Linked DNA regions of Homo sapiens. The protein of the gene in region 4 purifies or fractionates together with the protein of the main gene of each other region. This does not show direct contact. Each region holds a gene or a part of one and is shown on either strand. Other genes may lie near its edges. The genes, in order: THOP1, ZNF462, KLHL8 and XAGE2.

What was found.
Region 1: the proteins of XAGE2 (region 4) and THOP1 purify together in Homo sapiens (affinity purification with mass spectrometry; one large-scale study listed by BioGRID and IntAct). This does not show direct contact.
Region 2: the proteins of XAGE2 (region 4) and ZNF462 purify together in Homo sapiens (affinity purification with mass spectrometry; one large-scale study listed by BioGRID and IntAct). This does not show direct contact.
Region 3: the proteins of XAGE2 (region 4) and KLHL8 purify together in Homo sapiens (affinity purification with mass spectrometry; one large-scale study listed by BioGRID and IntAct). This does not show direct contact.

Annotation. Positions count from the first base shown.
Region 1 is NC_000019.10:2,795,457-2,799,024, reverse strand, and holds part of THOP1 (thimet oligopeptidase), read right to left. Parts: intron 2,945-3,568; coding exon 2,837-2,944; intron 1-2,836. UniProt on the Homo sapiens protein: Involved in the metabolism of neuropeptides under 20 amino acid residues long. Involved in cytoplasmic peptide degradation. Able to degrade the amyloid-beta precursor protein and generate amyloidogenic fragments.
Region 2 is NC_000009.12:106,869,634-106,873,201, reverse strand, and holds part of ZNF462 (zinc finger protein 462), read right to left. Parts: intron 2,258-3,568; exon of another isoform or gene 1-2,257. UniProt on the Homo sapiens protein: Zinc finger nuclear factor involved in transcription by regulating chromatin structure and organization. Involved in the pluripotency and differentiation of embryonic stem cells by regulating SOX2, POU5F1/OCT4, and NANOG.
Region 3 is NC_000004.12:87,186,100-87,189,667, forward strand, and holds part of KLHL8 (kelch-like protein 8), read right to left. Parts: intron 1-3,568. UniProt on the Homo sapiens protein: Substrate-specific adapter of a BCR (BTB-CUL3-RBX1) E3 ubiquitin ligase complex required for The BCR(KLHL8) ubiquitin ligase complex mediates ubiquitination and degradation of RAPSN.
Region 4 is NC_000023.11:52,371,993-52,376,220, reverse strand, and holds the end of XAGE2 (X antigen family member 2), read right to left. Parts: intron 3,678-4,228; coding exon 3,552-3,677; intron 653-3,551; coding exon 630-652; 3' UTR 541-629; downstream 1-540.

The DNA.
Region 1 (3,568 bases), on a different chromosome or scaffold from region 4:
CTTATCTGGTAAAGCTGGTTTTAGAAACAGCTAAAACTCGACCCTGGTGATATGGGATATCAACAAAGGAACTGAATCTTGAGTGGTCCCTCTGGTGGCCTTGAAGGCTGGGAGGTGACCACTATGTGACAAGGACCTGGCTTGAGGCCACATGACACATGACAGGCTGGCAGCAGGGCTGTACTTTGACTCAGATTCTCCTGCTGGAAGCTCCGCCAGGCGGGTCTGGAGCCCAGCTCCATGGGGCCAGAGCAGAAATGCTCATCCGCAGGACAGAGGGCGGCAGCAGGGGGAAACTGTGCCCAGGACTTTGCAGGGAGCCTGTATCTTGTCAGGAAGGCCCTGGTTCAGAACCAGCTGAGGGTTTGCTGGGCCTCTCCTGGGAACAGGCCCCATGCTGGGCAATTCCCAATGTCTCCCCCTCTTGCCATCTCACATAACAAACCCAGCCATGCCAGGGAAGGCTCTGGAGACTCAATGAGCACACAGCGCTGGCCCTAAGGGCCGCGGGGACGCGCTGGAACTCTGCTCGCCAGCATCCGGACCTCGCACCTTTTCCGCGCTTCTGTCCTCCAGGCGGGGCTGCCTCTGCTCCCTCCTTGCTTGCTGGCCCTTGTGGGAGAGTTTGTGGCTTCTACCATGCACATGGCCACACATGCTGGGCATGCAACAAGCCGAAGGGGTTTTAAAAATAACTGTGGTACAGTGGCTCACACCCGTAATCCCAGCAGTTTGGGAGGCCAAGGCGGGTGAATCACTTGAGGTTAGGAGTTTGAGACCAGCCTGGCCAATGTGGTAAAACCCTGTCTCTATCAAAAATAAAAAAAAATTAGCCAGCTGTGTTGGCGGGTGCCCGTAATCCCAGCTACTCCAGAGGCTGAGGCAGGAGAATCGCTTGAACATAGGAGGCAGAGGTTGCAGCGAGCTGAGATCACACCGTTGCACTCCAGCCTGGGAGACAGAGTGTGACTCCCTGTCTAAATAAATAAATAAATGCATAAATAAAAATAAAAATAACTGGCTCTTGTCCGCTGCGGCTGAGCTGAGGACCCCCAGTCCCCGAGTACTGAGACGGACCCTGACTCCGCTTTCGTCAGTGCTGGTTTCACTGACAAACCCACCTGGCCTCTCTGAGTCTTGGTTGCCTCAGCCATAAGGTGGAGACGCCCCCTAACCAGGACAGCGGTGGCTTTATGGAACCGGAACAGGGACAGCCATGGGGCTATGGCTGCAGCCTGGGACCTGATTGAACTGTGTGCTTTCTTTCCTGTACAGATGCTCCCTGACTTAGGACAGGGGTATGTCCCAATAATCCCATCGTGAGTTGTGAATATCATAAATCACAAATGCATTTAATAGGAGCGAACATCACAGCTTAACCTGGCCTGTCTTAAGCGTGCTCAGGAACTCACAGCAGCCCACATTCTGGTGAGATCGCCGAAGGCAAAGGCTATCGGATATGAGGTGTTGGGTATCTCATGTAACTTCGGTTTTCAGTTTGCCTGCGTCATTGCAGGCTAGCTGGTAGCTGTGGCTGGCGCCCAGCGTCACAGGACAGCAAGTGCCCAAGTGGCCGGCCTCGGAAAGATCAGCATTCCAAGCACGGTTTCTACTGAACACACACCATGGTGAATCAGGGGCCTGTATTCTGATGCTTTGACATTTGGGTGCCTTGCTGGCCCTCGAGAAATGGCCCCTCCCAGAGACAGCCAACAGCTCGCCTGCAAACATCTTTCACGTGCAAATCAACTAGTCTCGAGCCCCTACACTCTGGGGCACCATCCACCGGCCCCCATTACCCTAGGGCCAGGCACCCGATGAGGGGCAGCCCCCATGCCAGGGCTGGCTGAGATGGTCCAGCCGGCCAACCCTGAGCCCACTCCCCGCTACACCCATGCCTTCACAAGGGACCCCAGCGAAGGCCCTGCCCAGAGCACACCTCCTGACCCAGCCATGCTTCCCATGTGGCGAGCTGCCAGTTCCTGGGAACTGTGACACGCATCTTTCCAGTGGCGGTCGCCACTGCTCTGTTGGTGCCGCTGAACACTGGGCTTCTGCTAACACACTACGCTTGACTTCAGCGCTGCGCTCCCAGCTCTGCACCAACTAACTCATGTCACCCCTGAGACGCCCACATCAGGCACACCGGGCAGTGGGTGGAGGGGCTCCCCTCGTTACCGAGCCTCTGCGCCCCATGTCTGTGTGGACCTGCCTTGCCAGAGTTCAGGTCCTCAGGCAGAAGAAAGATGGACATCAGGCCGGGGGTCAGCCCTGAAGGGGGGACGCTCCCGAGGAGGCAGGGGCAGGGGGCCACAGAAGCTCCACTGGCCACGCCCAGCACTCCCCGCACCCAGTACTCCCTGAGCCCAGCACTCCCCGCAACTGAGCACTCCCCAGGACTGAGCACTCCCCGTGCCCAGTACTCCCCATGCCGAGTACTCCCCAGACTGAGCACTCCCCACACCCAGTACTCCCTGGGACCGAGCACTCCCCCCACCCAGCACTCCCCAAGCCCAAGCACTCCCTGAGCTCAGTACTCCCCATGCCCAGTGCTCCCTGGGACCGAGCACTCCTCACACCCAGCACTCCCGGCACCCAGCACTCCCTGTGCCCAAGCACTCCCTGAGTCCAGCACTCCCCGGGACGCAGCACTCCCTGAACCCAGCACTCCTGATGCCCCAAGCACTCCCTGAGCCGAGCACTCCCCGAGCCCAGCACTCCCCCTGCCCTGCGCTTCTTGCTCCCACCACTCCCTGGGACTGAGCACTCCCTGTGCCCAGCACTCCCCGGGATCGACCATTGCCCACGCCCAGCACTCCCTACACCCAGCACTCACTTCCTGAGTCTCTCTGGGGAGGTGAAGCCCATTTCTCCGGCCCAGCTTGATTAGCCGCTCCAGGTACCGCGCAGCCTCGGGCCTCAGTGAGTCCTTCTGAACTTTCTCCTGGAATAAAAACATCAAAGCATGTAGGACGTGGGCCAGTGCAGCCGCTCCAAAGAGCAGTTTGGCAGTTTCTTAAAAACCTGATCATCCGGCCCCCGTGTGACTTGGCAACTGCACTCCTGGGCATTTATCTCAGAGAAATGACGACCTGTCTCTACATAAAACCTGTGCAAACGTTCGCTTTGTTTGGAAGAGCCCCACACTGACATCAGTCCAGAGCTCCTTCACCAGTGCGATGGCTGAATGGGAATTAGATTGCTGGTGGTCTCCAGGTCGGTATCGGGGTGTAGATGACACCATAGTTTTGCAAAACGTCATCACTGGGGACCTGGGCAAAGTTGGCAAAGGCATTCGATTCTTTCCTGCACCTGCATGGGAACCTCTCATTGTCTCAACAGAAACTCTGGAAAGTGGAGGTGGGAGGATTGCGTGGGCCCAGGAGTTCGAGACAAGCGTGGGCAACGTTGTGAGACCCTGTCTGTATTTAAATAAAAAGAAATAACAATCCACGGCTATCATGGGTCACCCTGATCTGGATTTACCAAAGCACTAGGGCTGCATGATCCTGAGACTGTGGGACACATCAGCACATTCCCAGGGGTCCTCGCCTAAGAGGATGAACAG
Region 2 (3,568 bases), on a different chromosome or scaffold from region 4:
ATTACAATTAATTTTCCATTATTCTCAGATTTCCTTCTAGAACTCCAAGGATATACTCCTGGCATAAGCAACTGGAAGAGATAAACCATCAAGAACATAAGCTATTAGCAGACTAAGTAATAACCAAGGCCGGGTCCCATCAGCTGAGAGCCAGGCCTCTGGAGGCAGTCCCCACTCCATGTGAATCCTGGCTCCCCCACTTTGCAGCCTCATGACTTTGGCTAAATTACTTTACCTCCCTAAACCTCAGTTTCCTCTACCGTATGAACAGTCCCTGGTTCATATTAAATGTTAAAAAAAAATAAAAACCGTTGTCCAGTATTAACTATGAGTCAGTCCACGAGGGAAGACAGCATTTTTTAAGGTCCTATGTGGTATTCCCACTCTATAGAGTTGGCAGATTTTTTTGATGAAGCAATCATATTTATTTTCTATTGTTCTTACCCAGTATTAGAACAGACAATATTCAATTGACAGCAGAAAGGGGGGAAGTTCTTGCAACTGAACTCCGATATTTAAATTAAAATGGTCTTTTCTGAGGCCGGGCATGGTGGCTCATGCCTGTAGTCGTAGCACTTTGGAAGGCCGAGGCAGGCAGATTGCCTGAGCTCAGGAGTTCGAGACCAGCCTGGACAACACAGTGAAACCCCGTCTCTACTAAAATACAAGAAATTAGCTGGGCATGGTGGCTTGTGCCTGTAGTCCCAGCTACTTGGGAGGCTGAGTCAGGAGAATTGCTTGAACCTGGGAGGCAGCAGTTGCTTAAGTGGAGATCGTGCCACTGCACTCCAGCCTGGGAGACAGAGCAAAACTGTCTCCAAAAAGAAAAGAAAAAAGAAAATGGTCTCTTCTACAAAGACTCCCTTCTCACTTATTGTTATCAAATACTAATTAGTCTTCAGAGAAGACTATTTAAGATAGAAACCACTGAAGAGAAAAGATTCTGGGTGATAAGTACTTGTAGCTGGTATCTATCTTTGGTCATCTTCAGCTATAACCCAGCATTCAAATTGTACCCCAAACGAAGGACCCTCCATCAGGCCCATGGCAATCTGGGTTGAATGATTGGTGCTCAATTGCTGACTAATTAGTCATAACACAGAGGGATGATGTAATTAGGGATTAGAATGGCTAAACATTCTGGACCACAGTGGCCTTATTTTGGATTTTAAAATGCTGGGACTGGAAGGACAGACCAGCCTGTGACGCTTGGCTCAAGTCAATGGCTGAAACCCAAACTGACGCCAGGTAGTAGTCATAGTCCATTCCTTTCCCCTCTGAAAAGGCATGTCTTTGTTCTTCATTTCTTCTAACACCCAGGGTGTAGGTAGAGAAGCTCTATGGATCACTTCAGAGAGGACTATCACATTTTCTGTCCATTAATAATGCAGCTGTTTTCTGCTGTGCTCTATTCTCTACTTCGTTCGTTTTCCAGGAAAATCTCCACCTAGGCCTACTTAACCAGTTCCCTTGAGTTTCCATCTGTCCTTTATCAGAAAGGCTGTAATTGTAACCCCAAAGTCACATAAATTGTCCTCCAAACCCAATTCTATTTTTTACAATAGGAACTGGCCAAAGAATGTGTACCTGAGCACTGGTCTTCATATTTCACATGTGTTAGGTACCAAATTACAAGGTCTTTTTCTACTTGCTATAATCGCTTTCTTAAAAGCAATGCCTTACTTCTTCCTGTAGGATCTTCCCCAGTGGACAGACTTCTTCAATTTGGCTAGTCAATTATTTTCCTGCTTCTCTTCTTTTCCTTCTCCCATCCAACCAGTCACTCCTTCCCAGCAAATTTCCACTATAAAATTACAGCAATGCTTTAGCCTACTTTCCTGTTAGCTTTAACAACCTTGTCTATTTTCTACTTGTGCTGATGCTACTGTTTGCTTTTCTGACAGGCTAATCCACGTATCCTTTCAAGGCCTAACTTCCCTACCATGATAGCAGCTGGAGCTCTAATTCACAGGTGCCTTCCAAAGCTTTTCATTAGCAATAGAAATGAGATGGTTTAGAAACTCATTTCTTAATCTGCAGGTAAGTATTGGAACCTTTGTGCAGCAAACATCTTTCAAGTATCCCACATTGTGCCACTGAACAATTATTTTTGGAGGAATAAGTACAATGTTAAGGCACATTTGCAGTGTTAACGGGGAGAATTTTCCCTTAGAGGACATCGGCTCCCACCCCCCAGCCTCTGGCATTTCCCAGTTCAAAAGAGAAACACTCAGCTGACATGAGCAAAACTGAAGAATAATGGCATTACCTTCTTAAATCTGAACAGGAAAAAGAAGAATTCCAAAATTTGGAGGCCTTAGCGTGTGTTCTGGTTCAACTGCTCAGACGAGAACTTAAGAGTGAGTTTGGCCTTCCCCAGCTGGGCTCTGTGGCGGCTAAGCTCTCTCCACAAATCCTGGGCTTTATTACTTCTGACACAGTTGTCTCACCTGGGCCTACAGCTCCTTTTGTGCTCCAACCAAGCTGAACCCAAAGGTAAGACTTCGCTTCCTCATCTTGGGCAAATGCTTAATTTCCTACTAAGTGATCCTAAAACATTCTAATCAGGATCTATTGGTTCCTAGTAGAATTTTCTCCATTTTTCCTGGTGTGGTCTTTGTTAAAATTTGTCTATGTGAAGGTCTAGCAAATAACTTCCTGAATTACACAGTTCTCATCTTCAAGTATTTATTTTTTGAACAAATAAGTACCTGTCAAACTTCCTTTCACCCTAAAGAACAGGGTCTACTCTTTGAATAAGGTTGGGGGTAAGATGTGGACAGGCGCAGCACAAGTATTTTATTAATATCCAGAAGCAACATGCAGTGAACTGAACAAGCAAACACATGAAAGCAAGGAAATCAATACCAAAATACCCATGACCTGGCACACAAAAAAAACCTTCCCTCCAAGAATAACTCAAGAAAAAATGTCTCCAGCTAGGAATTAGGCAAGAATGCTTTGAAGACACCAAGTAATGTGCTCACCAGAAGTAAAAGGCAATGCATTTGTAGGTGACAATACTAGCACCTCCTCACACCACACCACTCTATCCTTTGTCCTTCTAAGCCGTGAAAATAATTAACTTTGTGTTGGAATCACACATCCAAACACTTTAAAAATCCTGTACGTGCTTCAGCTGATGAGAATAGGAGGACTTAGAAAAAAGATAAATTTTATGATAGCATTTCCAAGCACAAAATGTAAATCCAAATTGCTTCCAATGGATTTCCCTTTTATCAGTGTGTGCAGTTCTCCAAATGCAAAGTTCAAGGGGAAAAAAAAAATCCAAAAGAGCTTCCTAGCATACTGCAAATACAATCTAAATTCATAAAAACCCATTTTCCCACATTTGGAAACTTCTCCTGGGTCTTATAAATCCAAGAGACAGTTCAACTTACAATTATCTTCTCTCCAATGCCCTCCCAACCCAAACTTTTTTTTCTTCCTTTAGTACTGGCATGCAAACCATGCTGTTTTAACTTCTTTCCTGTTCTCCCAGTTCTTCTGGAACATTTTATTTTCGACAGTCAACTCATTTGGAGGAGTGCCACACTGAGGTTCAACT
Region 3 (3,568 bases), on a different chromosome or scaffold from region 4:
GCAATCTCAGCTCACTGCAACCTCTGCCTCCTGGGTTTAAGCAATTCTCCTGCCTCAGCCTACCAAGTAGTTGGGATTACAGGCGTGCACCACCACGCCTGGCTAATTTTTGTGGGTTTTGTTTTTTCAGTAGAGACAGGGTTTCACCACGTTGGCCAGGTTGGTCTTGAACTCCTGGCCTCAACTGATTCACCTGCCTCAGCCTCCCAAAGTGCTGGGATTACCAGTGTGAGCCACCACACTCGGCCTCTTTTATATATGTATCTGTAACATACACACAACAAACCATGATTTTCTATGTTATATTTCAGGGACATTTTGTGAATTAATACCAGCAAACATCAGTTAGCACTCATTACATGCCAACCACTATTGTAAGTGCTTTTTTTTTTTTTTTTGAAATAGGGTCTCACCCTGTTGCCCAGGCTGGAGTGCAGTGACGTGATCATGGCTCATTGCAGCCTCAACCTGCTGGGCTCGAGCAATCCCCCAACTTAGCCTCCCCAGCAGCTAGGACTACAGGCATGTGCCACCACACCCAGCTAATTTTTGTATTTTTCAGTAGGGACAGGGTTTTGCCATGCTGCCCAGGCTGGTCTCAAACTCCTGGGCTCAAGTGATTCACGCACTTTGGCCTCCCAAAGTGCTAGGATTACAGGCATGAGCCACAGAGCCTGGCCTTCTAAGTGCTTTTCATATACTAACTCAGTTGTCCCAACATCCCTATGAGTAAGTACTATTATTATCCACAATTTATCAATCAGAAAACTGGAGCAGAGAGTAAATATTTAGTAGTATTTACTATGAGCTCAACTGAGGTTTTTTTTTATTTTCTATTTACATTATCTTGAAATGATATAGCTCACATAAAAGCAGTAAAAAAAAAACACTGCAATCTCATCACCTTAATTATTGAAAAATCAGATAGCTTCCAACAGTATGCTATTACAAATAGCACACTAGTGAACTTCTTTGTAACTAAATCGTTATTCACATTCTCTATTATTCCAACAGATAAATTATTGTAAGTAGAGATGCTGCTTCAAAGGATACAATGTGAATATGTGAATACATAATGTCAAACTGTCCATTTCTGAGCTTCTTACAGTATTTGCACCATATCTTGAGTGTTGTTATTGTTGTTGTTGTTGTACAAAGTCTATGCTGCCCAGGTTGATCTCAAACTCCTAAGCTCATGCAATCCTCCCGCCTCGGCCTCCAAAAGTGCTAAGATTATAGGTGTGAGCCATTGTGCCCGGCCATAGTTGCCAATTTGATGAATAAAAAGATCTCATCTTTTTTTTTCTTTTTTGCTCTTAAGATTGAATCATTTATAAATTTTGAGCTATTTGTATTTCTTCTATGAACTACAAATTTTTTATTTATAAGTACTCATCATATAATCAGAGTATTAGGCATTTGTCATATATATTTCAAACTTCTCTTTTAGTTTGCTTTCAAATTTTATTCTCTTATATAAAAACCCTATGGATTTTTATGTAATTAAATGAAGTCTTTTTATTTATTGTTTTAGGTACCTGCTAGAAATGGGAATCATTCTAATATTCTATATTTACTTCACGTATTTTTTATACTACTTTTATGGTTTTATGTTTTACACTTAAATTTTTACTTACATCTGGAAGTTTTTGGTACTGAGTGGGAAGATATCTTCTTTTTAATACAGTATTTATCCCATTTTCCCAGGAGTTTATAATAATCAAATACAAGTAACAGTTATAGTACTATTTTAACAGTTTTCCTGTTTTCATGTAGTGTTTTGATTATATAATAAACAGTTGTATCTCATTATTTGAGAACTAATTTTAAAATGACAACTCCTAGAGTGTTCAAATGTATAAATGGTTTTGCTTATAAAAGCCCCTTCCTCAGTCTTTTTTCACTAATGTGGAGGAAGAAGCAGTATCACTTATTTCAGAAAGTACAAGACAATCATTTCTGTCTGTTATGCTATATTAAATTTTTTCACAGAACTCACAAGGCAGTATTTAGATTCCATTGAGACTAAAGTTGTAATGTAGACTATAACATAAAGCTTGGCATGTTTTCAAATTCACGTCAGCTCTAAAATGGGATCTGAAATCTGATACTAAATAACTTTTAAATAGCCTAAGCATATCCTTTAAAAAATTATTTCCACATGCCACCACTGGGATTCAGTTTCTATGCAAATATTTGTAAGTCTCACATGACTTAAACCTGCTCCATTAAATAACTTGCCAACACTCTCTTACATAATAGTATCATAAAATAGGGTTCTACAATTTCTAGATAACCATTATTTTAACACTTGCCATCCAAGCTGTACAAATCAATGGCCGGCAAGTCATTTTCATGTTGTTTTTAATAAGATTCTGTCCCTTTACAATTCCATTTGAGTCTTGATTCAAACAAACTAAAATGTGGCTATTTAACACATACACCCCTATGTACCCTTTTAGAATAAATATCCATCTTTATTTTATAAAGATCTTTAAGCCACATGTATAAATAGGAACAGCCAAAAATTTGGCTTTTTAATGCACTGATTCTCCTTTGATGTTATATAGTTAATTACATTCCTGAAAGTTTATTTGTACATTTTCTTTCTCTGGTACAAAAAAATAATTACCAATTACCAAAATCATTTCATTAGAAATTTGAAAATGAAAGGAATCAAAGTCTAAAGACCTGATGTTTAAAATTGGATGAAAAACACACAAGCTACATAATATTAGACATTACCGTGTATTTAGAATTATATAAATACTATATGTCCCTGATACTACTTAATTTTCTAATTTACATTCTTTCTTTGTTAGATCAGTGAACGTGTGACTAATTCAAGATAGTATTACGAAAGAAAAACCTTAGACAATTAAATTTAACGGAGTTTAACTGAGCAAAGACGGATTCAAGAATTGGGCAGTCCTGGAACAAGAATAGGTTCAAAGACACTGGTGCTGGTGCATAGTCGAAAATTATTTACGGACAGAAAAAGGAAGGTGACACACAGAAAACGGAAGTGAGGTACAGAAACAGACGGGTCAGTTACAGCTCAGGGTCAGCCTTACTTGAACACAGGTTGAACAACTGGTTGCCTTTAATTGGCTGAACCTCAGTGATTAGCACAAGAGTAGGTTGCAGTCTGTTTACACAACCAGTTAGGTTACAGTTTACTGTGTACAGAGAAACTTTTAGGCCAAGTTTAAAATACATAAGGTGGGAGCTTCAGGCTAAACTTAACAGTACTCAGGGAAAAATCATGTCACACTTCAGTATTAAAATATGTAGAATATCAACATTCATTAAATGATTCCTTAGACTTTTGTTTAAAAAGCTTGAAATACCAACTATTAATAAAAACTTTGAGTAATTTTCCAGAGATTAGCCAATATGAATGGAAATACAATGAAAATAAGGCTTTTGGATTAGTAAAGCACTTGACTATCAACATACAAAGCATTCCTAACTCCACTAGTTAGGACTTCATCATGGCTCGAGTGCCACTTGCTCGAGCCCGCTCCCACTCTGTGGAGTGTACTTTCATTTCAATAAATCTGTGCTT
Region 4 (4,228 bases):
GTAGCTGAGACTATAGTTGCATTCATTCATTCACTCATTGTAGTAGAGAGGGGTTCCTATATTCCCCAGACTGGTGTCACTTTCCTGAGCTCTAGCAATCCTCCTACCTCAGCATCCCAAGGTACTGGGATTACAGGTGTGAGCCATTACACCTGGCCACAATTCTCAATAGTATCAAAATACCTGGGAATGAAATTAACAGAAGAGGCTGGGCACGGTGGCTCATGCCTGTAATCCCAGCACTTTGGGAGACCAAGGCAGGCAGATCACGAGGTCAGGAGATTGAGACCATCCTGGCCAACATGGTGAAACCCCATCTCTACTAAAAATACAAAAATTAGCCAGGTGTGGTGGAACGTGCCTGTAGTCCCAGCTACTCAGGAGTCTGAGGCAGGAGAATTGCTTGAACCCAGGAGGCAAAGGTTGCAGTGAGCCAATATCATGCCACTGCACTCCAGCCTGGCGACAGAGCAAAATTCCATCTAGAAAAAAAAAAAAAAGAAAGAAAAAAAGAAATTAACAGAAGATGTGCAAGACTTCTTTGGAGAAAAGCTTAAAACTTTATTAAGATATTTTAAAGTAAAATATCTAATATAAAAACAGTTTGTGTTGTTTCAGCTTATCTTCCTTTAAACCTGTGATTTCCCTTCACCTGTAATAGAAACATAACAGGTGGAACATTACTAGCAGAACTGTATTTAGATCACATTAAGATATGCAAATGACACCAAAGTTTTTGTTTCGTACAGTGGACTAAGACCATAAACCCAAGAGTCACCCTCTGGCTTACATTCAATTAGACCTCTGTGGAGACTTTGGAGATAAACTTCCAAACATATACATTATTAATATTTTTTAAACACACCCTGCTTTCTAGTGCTACAAGGAAACCAAAAGACAGTCCGAGGTCAGAACACATTAAATCAAGTGAAACTCTTAAAAAGGGATTTAATGTATAAAGCAAAAATTGTGTATAATTTTACTAAAAATATAACAAATACACACAAAAAAACTAAGAAACAAAGGAATTTATAAAAAATGTACAATTTAATATTTTGGCTTGAAACTATGGTCTGGATGTCAAATAGGCTCCTGGAAATAGTATGAAAACTATCTTTTAAGAAAAGAGTTAATGTCACATTAGAAGCTGCATATGCGTGGTGAATAGAAAGGACAGTATTGCATTTGTTTTTTCCTCTATTGTGCCAAAGTGCAAAAATGTTGCTTTGGGTTAGTTTACCCTTCTGTAGATATTAAGGTATGGTAAACATCTGTCCCCAGTTTTCACCTATAGTCCTGATGTTAATACAAATATCTCTTTTTACACTTGAAAAAATTCCCCTTTGTATAATTAATTATATGATCGCATTACTTTTAATCTATCATTATCATTATTGATATCAAAATATGAAAGAGGTATATATCATGAACAGTATGGCACGAAAAAAAAGAAACGGAAAGGGAAATGGAGATGTAGAGGAAGACATCTAGAATAACTAAATATTTATTTCTAAAAGTAAATATTATCAAGGGACAACTAGCAAATTTCACAAGTTCATGCACAGTCTTTGTGATGAATAGATATTCAGGTACTACTGGGATATATTTAATAATGCATGCATTCCTAGCTTATCAACCATTTCATCTATATTCCGAAAATATTAGAGTTTAAGAACGTATTCACTTTCAGCTGGGCGTGGTGGCTCACATCTGTAATCCCAGCACTTTGGGAGGCCAAGGCAAGTGGATCACCCGAGGTCAGGAGTTCGAGAACAGCTTGTCCAACATGGCGAAACCTCGTCTCTACTAAAAATACAAAAAATAGCCAGGCATGGTGGTGCATGCCTGTACTCCTAGCTACTCAGCTGAGGCAGGAGAATCACTTGAACCTGGGAAGTGGAGGTTGCAGTCAGCCAAGATCATGCTGCTGCACTCCAGCCTGGGTGACAGAGCGAGACTCTGTCTCAAAAGTAAAACAAAAGAAAACAAAAGAATGTATTTACTTTCAGTTATACTACATATTCAATATCTGTGTCTTCTTCATATTCTGTATTGTGCTTTTCCCATTTTCTTCAAGACTGGAGAAACAAATAGATAGTCTATTCATAGCTATTTTTAAAATAAACAATGTGTTAAATGTATTACTTTTGGATTAGTTTTCCTAATCCAAAATCCAGGTTCCTACCTGTCTGTTATTAAGTACCTCTTTCCTTTTCCATTAGGTTTATTCTGTTGCTCTTTTATTATTATATTGATTATTACTTTATCATGTAATTTGCTATCTATTCTAATAAGATGTGCATTTAAGGCTGTGATCTTCCTAAGAATACAACTGAGGCTTGTTCAATCGGCTCCTGAAAACTATCTTTTAATGTAAATAGTTTAATGGAATGGTTCAGCAGTGCAGAGTAAAACATTTAGGTAATTTCTTCCCTAAACATGGAGTTCTTCCTTTAAATTCAGAAGCTCTTCTCATTAACAGTCAGCAATTTATAAAAAAAAATGTGTAAAAGATACTTATGTTGACTACTCAAGAATTAGTACATTATAGTCTTTGAACTTTAAGTCCTATCATCTGATGTCTCAAGGCAGAAACCTGTAATATGTAACCTATGATATGGTTAGAGGTGATTATATCATGTGTGTCTTTATTACACACAGTAGCTCATGAAGACTGACAGGAGAGCAAAAAGCATGCTTAGCACAGGCATCTTACACCCACCTTGAGCATGACTGACCTACATGCATTCTCCCTACTTCATTGGCCACAGAAAGTAGACTGTCTCTTGCCATTTTATTATTCAGTCATTCAAGGCTTCACGGTGGGAAGGCTTTAAAATACAATTATTCTTTAAAAGCCAGATAATTCAGAATTTGACAAAATCCAAGAACACTCATTCAAGTCTCCATGCTGGAAAACAAACATCAAGCAGAGTGCCTGCTCATTTTCTTAGGAGCAATGAAATCTCAGCTCAGATATTGTAATTGGACTGAAGCTGATTGTTAGGAAAAACAAATCATGGGAATCAGAATATCTTTCTATTCTCTCCAACAGAACCAGAGCATGCAGAAATCAGCATTGAAACGGATTTTAATACATTTGATCTGCATTCACCATTTTCAATAACAGCAAAGATGGGTGTAGAATTTATGGAATTTGTCCAGATTCTCACAAATTGTCATAGAGCTGCTACTAGAATCTCCTTCAGTACTCAGCATATTTCACACAGTCTGGTATTACAAATGCATTATGTATTTGTTAAAAGCAGAAATTAGAAAAGAATCTGAAAATTGTTAGCTGTTGGTTATACTCAGAAGTAAGAAAATGCTGTCATATTTGATGATTCAATATGGCTTTGACCCAATTTGTGTCTGTATCTGAGAGCATTTAAGTCTTGCAGTCAGGCATTGGGATCTGAAGTACCTTTCAAAGAAAGTGTGTATTTGAACACTGTTATTAAAGTGGCAGTAATATTATCTCTCTATGATCAAAAGTATAATATTGTAAAAAATAGAAATCACATAACTTTGTGTCTTAATGAATAACACACCTGCTTCTGGCATTTTAAAGTGCTCTGCTTTTGGTAGAATCTTCCCCTTGACATCAGTACCACCTTCACATCCATCCCCAGTCTTTGTCTGACATAGCTCCTGGAGATCGGCTTCCAGGTCAGGCACTAAAAAATACAAAGGTTATTGAACTTGAGTACAAAAACATGAAGTATAAATAAGGAAGTAATAATATTCTATTCCACAGAGTTATGACATAAAAGCCTGTAGGCTAGTGTGATAATAAATGTGATGCAAAGCTGTCACACTTTTGTTTTCCTGTATTATGAATTCCTATTTTATTTGTTTTTTAATACAGGGTTTCACTCTGTCATCCAGGCTGGAGTACAGGGGTGCAGTCACAGGTGACTGCAGCCCTGACCTCCTGAGCTCAAGTTATCCCCCTGTCTCAGCCTTGTGAGAGGCTGAGACTATAGGCACATGCCACCACCAAGGCTAATTTTTGTATTTTTTTGGCAGAGAAAATTTTCTGGTGTTTCCCCATGTTTCCCAGGCTAGTTCCTAACTCTCAGGCTCAAGGGACCCACCAGCCTCGGCCTTCCAAAGTGCTGGGATTACAGGTGTGAGCCAATGTACCTGGCCTGAAATCTAATATAAAATGACAATCTAAGGATAAATCACACTACACCTTCATTTCCTATACTTTGCCAGTGTGCAT